Homo sapiens: one gene and its partner. The protein of the gene in region 2 purifies or fractionates together with the protein of the main gene of each other region. This does not show direct contact. Each region holds a gene or a part of one and is shown on either strand. Other genes may lie near its edges. The genes, in order: EIF2AK2 and HACE1.

Region 1 (3,468 bases), on a different chromosome or scaffold from region 2:
TCAACCAAATGCAATGTTGGATCTAGATTTCAACAACCAAGAAAACTGTATTTTTGAGATAGAAACAATACAGACTATTATATGATAATTAAGGAAATCTTGTCAATTTTTTGAGTGTGACAATGATGCTGTGGTTTTGTTAAAAAGATTTATCTGCTAGAGATACATTTTAAAGTACTTACAAGTGCAATGATGTAACACCTGAGATTTACTTTAAAATATTCCAGTAGGGCCGGATATTGTAATCCCAGCAGTTTGGAAGACCAAGGCAGGAGAATCTCTCAAGGCCAGGAGTTTGAGACCAGCCTGGGAAACACAGCAAGACCATATTTCTACAAAAAATTTAAAAATTAGTTGGGTGTGTTGGTGTATGCATGTAGTCCCAGCTATTCAAGCGGCTGAGGCAGGAGGATCACTTGAGCCTAGGAGTTCGAGGTTACAAGGAGCTGTGATCGTACCACTGTACTCTGGCCTGGGTGACAGAGTGAGATCCTGTCTCTTAAAAAAAAAATTACAATTAAATACTTCACCAAAAGAAACAAACAAAAAGTAAGGGGTTAGATGTATTAAGAACGGTAAAGTATTGATATTTGTTGCAGCTGGGTGATGGGTAGAGTTTCATTATTCTATTTTTGTGTATGTTTGAACATAAAGAAATGTATGAATAATATTGAAATTATTCAATATTCCATAATGAAAAGTTAACATGCCAAGAATCTCAAATTATGGTGAACACTCAGTGGGGACTGCATATTGTGAGTTATGTCTCTAGTTAGTTAACAGATAGTAGAGACCTGGAAAAGCTTGTATGTAGCCTTTTAAACATTTCTTCTCAGATACATACATGCATATATATGTATTATATAAAATACATATTCATACACATATGTGCACACACACAGGATGGCTTCATGGACATGCAACCTGTGCAGTTGCACAAGACTGTGCTTAGAAGCACCCCACACCTAATTTTTGAACGAGGGCCGTACAGTTTCATTTTGCCCTTAGTCCCACAAATTATGTAGCTGGCCATACACACACATGCACACATACCACATACCCACATGTATATATGCATATATTGTGTACATATGTATATACATTGAATATATTTAACATAAGTGTTAAGTATGCATGTGAATTTTATGTATGTATTTATGTTAAACATGTACGTATTTAAATAACATGTGGTTTAGTGATAAAAATTCCCTAAAAGGTATGTTTCTAGGGAGGCAATTATATTAAAATGGCTCTCAAAATTTCTGTGTGTGTGTGTGTGTGTGTGCATTTTAATTAGCAAATAAGGTCCCAGGCTCTTGCCCCTGTCCTCCTCTGAGTAAGAGGATACTTTTTACTTTAATTTTGAGGCCAAGAAAATATATACTCACAAATCAAAAGAAGTTGCTAAGAAATGCTATATTCATTTAATAAGAGTAGGAATATATATATCTTTTTTTTTCTTTTTTTTTTTTGAGACTGAGTTTTGCTCTTGTCACCCAGGCTGGAGTGCAATGGCGTGATCTCAGCTCACTGCAACCTCCACCTCCTGGGTTCAAGCGATTCTCCTGCCACGGACTCCCGAGTAGCTGGGATTACAGGCGCCTACCACCACACCCAGCTAATTTTTGTATTTTTAGTAGAGATGGGGTTTCACCATGTTGGCCAGGCTGGTCTCGAACCCCTGACCTCAGGTGATCCACCCGTCTCGGCCTCCCAGAGTGCTGGGATTATAGGCGTGAGCCACCATGCCCAGCCAGAGTAGGAATATTAAAATGAGGTCAGTAAAGATAAGGCTACATTCTCACTAACTGGCCACATCATTTAGTGTTTCTTTTGAATATAGCCTCATTAATCAAAACCAGATATTGTTTTTTTAAAAAAAGATTTCTCTCTACGCAGAACATTTCCAAATCTACAGAAAAGTTCAAAGAATAATACAACAAACACCTGTGTACTGTCATCTAGATTTACCAATTGTACAATGGCTAATATTTTGCCACATGTGTGCCCTCTTTCTCTCTCCATGTTGATTTTTGCTGAACATTGAAAGTTGCAGACATCATGACACACTTGGCCTCTAAATGTTTGTGCATGCATTGCCTAAAAAAACATTTTTGGCTGGGTGCAGTGACTCATGCCTGTAATCTCAACACTTTGGGAGGCCAAGGCAAGTGAATCACCTGAGGTCAGGAGTTCAAAACCAGCTGGGTCAACATGGTGAAATTCCGTCTCTACTAAAAATAGAAAAAATTAACCTGGAGTGGTGGCAGATACCTGTAATCCCAGCTACTCAGGAAGCAGAGGCAGGAGAATCACTTGAACCTGGGAGGCAGAGGTTGCAGTGAGCCGAGATCGTGCCACTGCACTCCAGCCTGGGCGACACAGTGAGACTCTGTCTCAAAACAAACAAACAAACAAAAACAAAATAAAACAAAACAAAAAGACATTTTCTACATATACTATTATCACACCTGAGAAAACAGTTATTTGGCATTGTTATCTAATATGCAGTCTATATTCAAATGTTCTCAATTGTCCCGAAGATATCTTTATAGCTGTTTGCTGGGTTGTTGCTTTCTTTTATTATTATTATTATTTAGATATGATCTCACTCTGTCACCCAGGCTGGAATGCAGTAACATGATCATGGCTCACTGCGGCCTTGACCTCCTAGGCTCAAGTGATCCTCCCACCTCACCCCCCCAAGTAGCTGGGACCACAGATGCACACTACCATGCCCAGCTAATTTTCTGATTTTTTGTAGAGATGAGAACTCACTGTGTTGCCCAGGCTAGTCTCAAAATCCTATGCTCAAGCCATCCTCCCCTTTTGACCTCCCAAAAATGCTGGGATAACAGGCATTAGCTACTGCGTCCAGCTTTTGTCTTTTTAAATATCCAGAATACAATAAAGATTCAAACATTGCATTTGGTCATTGTATCTTACAAGTCTCTCCCCTTTTTTTTTTTTTCATGACACTGACTTTTTGAGAAGCCCAAGTCAATCATCTTATAGAATGACTACATTCAGGATTTGTCTAATAATTTCCTCATGATTAAATTCCAGTTTAACACTTTGTGCAAGAAAACTAAATAGGTAAAATTCTTAAGTCACATCAGGAGGGGCATAATGTTAGGGTGTTCCACCTTGGGTGATGCTAAATTGAATCACTTGGTTATTGTGGTGACCATTGTAAAGGTACATTTTCCCCTGTATAATTGATACCTCTTCTGTAGGATTATATTTAAATCCTTGTAGAAGATCCTATTCCACAATAGCTTTTCATCCAATAGTTTTAGCATCTATTGATGAACGTTACGTGAAAAATCTATGAACTGCTCTTTATGAACACTTTTTAAAGCCTTTATAAAACTATTTTCTCTTACTGTATTTTCACTTTTTGCTTAACCTAAATTTGGCCCTTTTTAAAAATCCTAAAATCATATGGCAGTTTTAGAATGGTAGCTG
Region 2 (3,833 bases):
CAAGCTTTCTCAAGGTAACTTAAAATCTGCCTCCTCTGAAATTTCCCCTGACTACAGATGCCAGAGCCAGCTCTTCCTCCCTTAAACTCCTAAAGATCCAGGTTATGTTGTAGTTACTATTTTATACATATGTTTATTATCTCCCCAGCCAGACTGAATTAGAATCCTCTTAGAGAAGGGAAGTAAGTTTTCTATCTCCAAAACAACTACCATTTATTGAGCATATATCACAGTCATTCCTGACAATTTATTCTGGACAATAGTTCTATGAGGCTGCTGTCATTATCTCCATTTTGTAGATGAAGAAACCAAGGGCTCAAGGATATTAGGAAACGTGCCCAAAGTTCACATAGCTGGTAAGGAGCAAAACAAGCTTTCCTCCAGCTAGCTTCATGTAACATGAGATGTATGGAATGAACAGGTACACATCTGGTAGGGGAAAGGTGGTCAGGTCAAATAAGTTAGGAGGATTAACAAAGCTAAATCACTATTTTTACTGAAGGGCTTCTCAAAGCCTTTTAACATGCTGCCAATGTGATTTATAAATTTCCAAAGGGCATATGTTATGTAATTTCCCAAATGTATTTGGGGGCTAAAATCCTTTTCAAAAGGACAATCAGCCTTATAGAACTAAAGAGTTTCATTAAGCTCCTTTCAGGAAATGTGGCAATGTGTTCTGTTGTTTTTGTACAGACCTCTGTACATAGTAGGCACTCAGTACATATTTCTTGAAGAAAACTTACTCCTCATATTAAAGTAACATGCAATCATTCCTCTTACAACAGAATGTCTGAAGTGTAATAATTATTCCACTAAACAGTATTAGAATTTTAGAAATTAATTTCATTAGATAGAATAAAAAGATGAAGAAAAATTTCTACCTGTGCTTTTATGATATGCATGAATCTTGACATCAACTCAGGACATTCAAGGAGAAAGTGAAAGTGGTCAAATATAATTTTGGGATTTCTAAAAGAAAAATATTTTGTTTAAATGGACAGGAAGAATGAGTAGCATTAAGTGAAATGCAAATTCAGATACACTGACACTGAAACAGAAGAAAAACACATAATAATCCATATCTATTAAAGTTTCATTTGTTATTGAGCATATTTTGAATAGTACGAGAAATAGTATTTTTTCTGTTTAGATGAAACTGTAAGTAAAGAGAGGAAAGGCTAGCAGGGTACTCCACAAACCCAGAAAGCTTACCTATTAACAAAGCATTTTAAAACTTCATCATGTTTGCAGACAAATTCAATGAAACGAGGTGAAGTCATTCTGTGGGGGGAAAACATCAATCAGAATACACAGGCAAAAGTTTGTGATATAATATAGCGAACTTGATAAATATATACTGAACTGGACTGGCTTCTAAACCAAAAAAAAAAGAATTTGGTTTTGAATCTTCTTTGTAAGTTTAGGAAACTGAAGTATGCCTAGCCAATTTGTAAAATGATTCTAACTTCTCATCAGCAGACGATATCAACAAGTGACTTTTTAAAAATCTTGAAATTTGGTGCATTTCTGCTCTACACATTTCAAATACATAATTAAGAGATCCTATACAAGGTGACATTCACCATTCTACAAAGTAATAATATATACTGCTTAATATTTAAATATTCCCTACTAGATCTAGATTAGTATGAGTATCTTAAAACAAGGAGAAAACTTTAAATCAACAAATTATTATTTGTTGTTTTTGAAATTACAAAAGTATCACTGCTTTTCATCATCTATCAGAGAAAAAAAAAATAATAAGCCAAAACTTTCTTACCCCGGAGGCATCTGACAAGAACAGCACATGTAAAAAGCTTGAATGACAGCACTTAGCCGGTTAGCTGTCATAGAAATAACATCCTGACAATCTGCACTGGCTTCCTGTCTCCCTGCAAGAGCATCTGGTTTAGATTCCCTTGTGCCAGTGGACAGATTTTCATAGCTCCCAGGTCCTGGAGGTTCAAATGGAGGAATGGAAGCAGCATCTTGATCTTGGCCTTTTTGTTTCAGTAAAATAGAAGTGATCTCTGTTGAGTCTCTTTTGTTTTTCATCAATTCTGTGGCTATTAAAACTAGCCATTCATCTAACGAGTGCCAAAGCAATTCCAGAGGCTGAGAGAAACAAAAGTGTTTTTTAAACATCATTCTTAAACTACAGGATTAAAAAAAAAAAAACAAAACACAACTAGACAAATATTATAGAAGAGAAAATTTACTCTAGTCATTTCTATCTTCCCAAGTTAACGTGATAGTAATGCCTAAAGGTAAGTAATAAAATTATACAAATGCTACATAAATGACAATTTCTTCATTTATGGCAATAATTTAATTTGTATGTATGTATTCCTTGTAATAAAAAGGAAAAACTAAATCTAACAAAAAATTCACAATCTTTCTTCTTTTAATTTTCAAATGTTTAGTTTTAAAAGCACACATTACTACTATATATAATCACCCTTAACATTTACTGTATTAATATGATCAATGTCAACCACTTTCAATTAAACAAATAAGATTTTTTCAGTTAAAAAATGAGAACCCCTAAGTATAATCACTCAACATTTTCTGTATTAATATGATCAATGTCAACAACTTTCAATTAAACAAATGTCTTTTTTCAATTAAAAAATGAGAATCCCTAAAGAACCTAATGAACAGCTTTTTTACTGTGCTCCTTTCATTACATATAATTCCTAGAATTTGGATAATTTTTGACAAGAAATTACAAAATGTGGCATATTTATGTATATACATATACTTACAGACACAATCCATTTCTAATAATTAGTGTTTTTTTAAAACAAGAGATACAATTACCAAACTTCTATTAAAATACTGACTAGCAGGCCGGAGATGGTGGCTCACGCCTGTAATCCCAGCACTTTGGGAGGCCGAGGTGGGTAGATCACTTGAGGTCAGGAATTCGAGATCAGCCTGGCCAACATGGTGAATTGAAATCCCATCTCTACTAAAAATACAAAAAATTAGCCAGACATGGTGGCACACACCTATAATTCCAGCTACTCGGGAGGCTGAGGCAGGACGATCACTTGAACCCAGGAGGCAGAGGTTGCAGTGAGCTAAGATCACACCACTGCACTCCAGCCTGGGTGACAGGGCGAGACTCCATCTCAAAAAAAAAAAAAAAAATACTGAGTAGCAAATTCTTAATTCCAAGTAAAGATTAACACCTTTCTATTAAAAAAAAAAAAGATGAGGAGAGAATAAACTATTTCCTATTATTATTCTAGCTGGGTACACAGGCATGCACTTGTAGTCCCAGTTACTGAGGAGGTTGAAGGGGGAGGATTGCTTGAGTCTCGGAAGTCAAGGCTACAGTGAGCTGTGATCATGTCACTATACTCCAGCCTGGGTGAAAGAGTGAGATACTGTCTCCAAAAAAAAAAAAAAAACAAACAAACAAACAAAAAAAAAAACCTGCTAGGATATTTTTAATCCCAAATAAAGATTAATAGTTTATAAGTGGTACAGTGGTTAAACAATCCCTTCATCCTACACTATTTTAAATATTCTTATTGAGAATGATTAGCTATCCTTCTGCAAATAAATATAAAAGTTTATCTCACTTTTTGAATCTGACATGATTACAGAATGCTACAAACTACACCATGTGCTACAGAAAGACTCACCTTTAAAATATTTCAAGGAAAGAAATAATCTTTCTTTTAAAGACCGCCATGGAAGGAGATTATACAACCATATTTGGAACCTTAGAAAATGTTTGAACTATTCTGCCAGGAAATTCTTCCCAATTATTATCTAACAAATACCTTCACTGCCACTTTCAGCCTTTCTTCAGATTTCTGTAA

The links.
Region 1: the proteins of HACE1 (region 2) and EIF2AK2 purify together in Homo sapiens (affinity purification with western blotting; one study listed by BioGRID). This does not show direct contact.

Annotation. Positions count from the first base shown.
Region 1 is NC_000002.12:37,101,741-37,105,208, forward strand, and holds part of EIF2AK2 (interferon-induced, double-stranded RNA-activated protein kinase), read right to left. Parts: 3' UTR 1-3,468.
Region 2 is NC_000006.12:104,783,205-104,787,037, forward strand, and holds part of HACE1 (E3 ubiquitin-protein ligase HACE1), read right to left. Parts: intron 2,116-3,833; coding exon 1,781-2,115; intron 1,282-1,780; coding exon 1,213-1,281; intron 970-1,212; coding exon 882-969; intron 1-881. UniProt on the Homo sapiens protein: E3 ubiquitin-protein ligase involved in Golgi membrane fusion and regulation of small GTPases. Acts as a regulator of Golgi membrane dynamics during the cell cycle: recruited to Golgi membrane by Rab proteins and regulates postmitotic Golgi membrane fusion.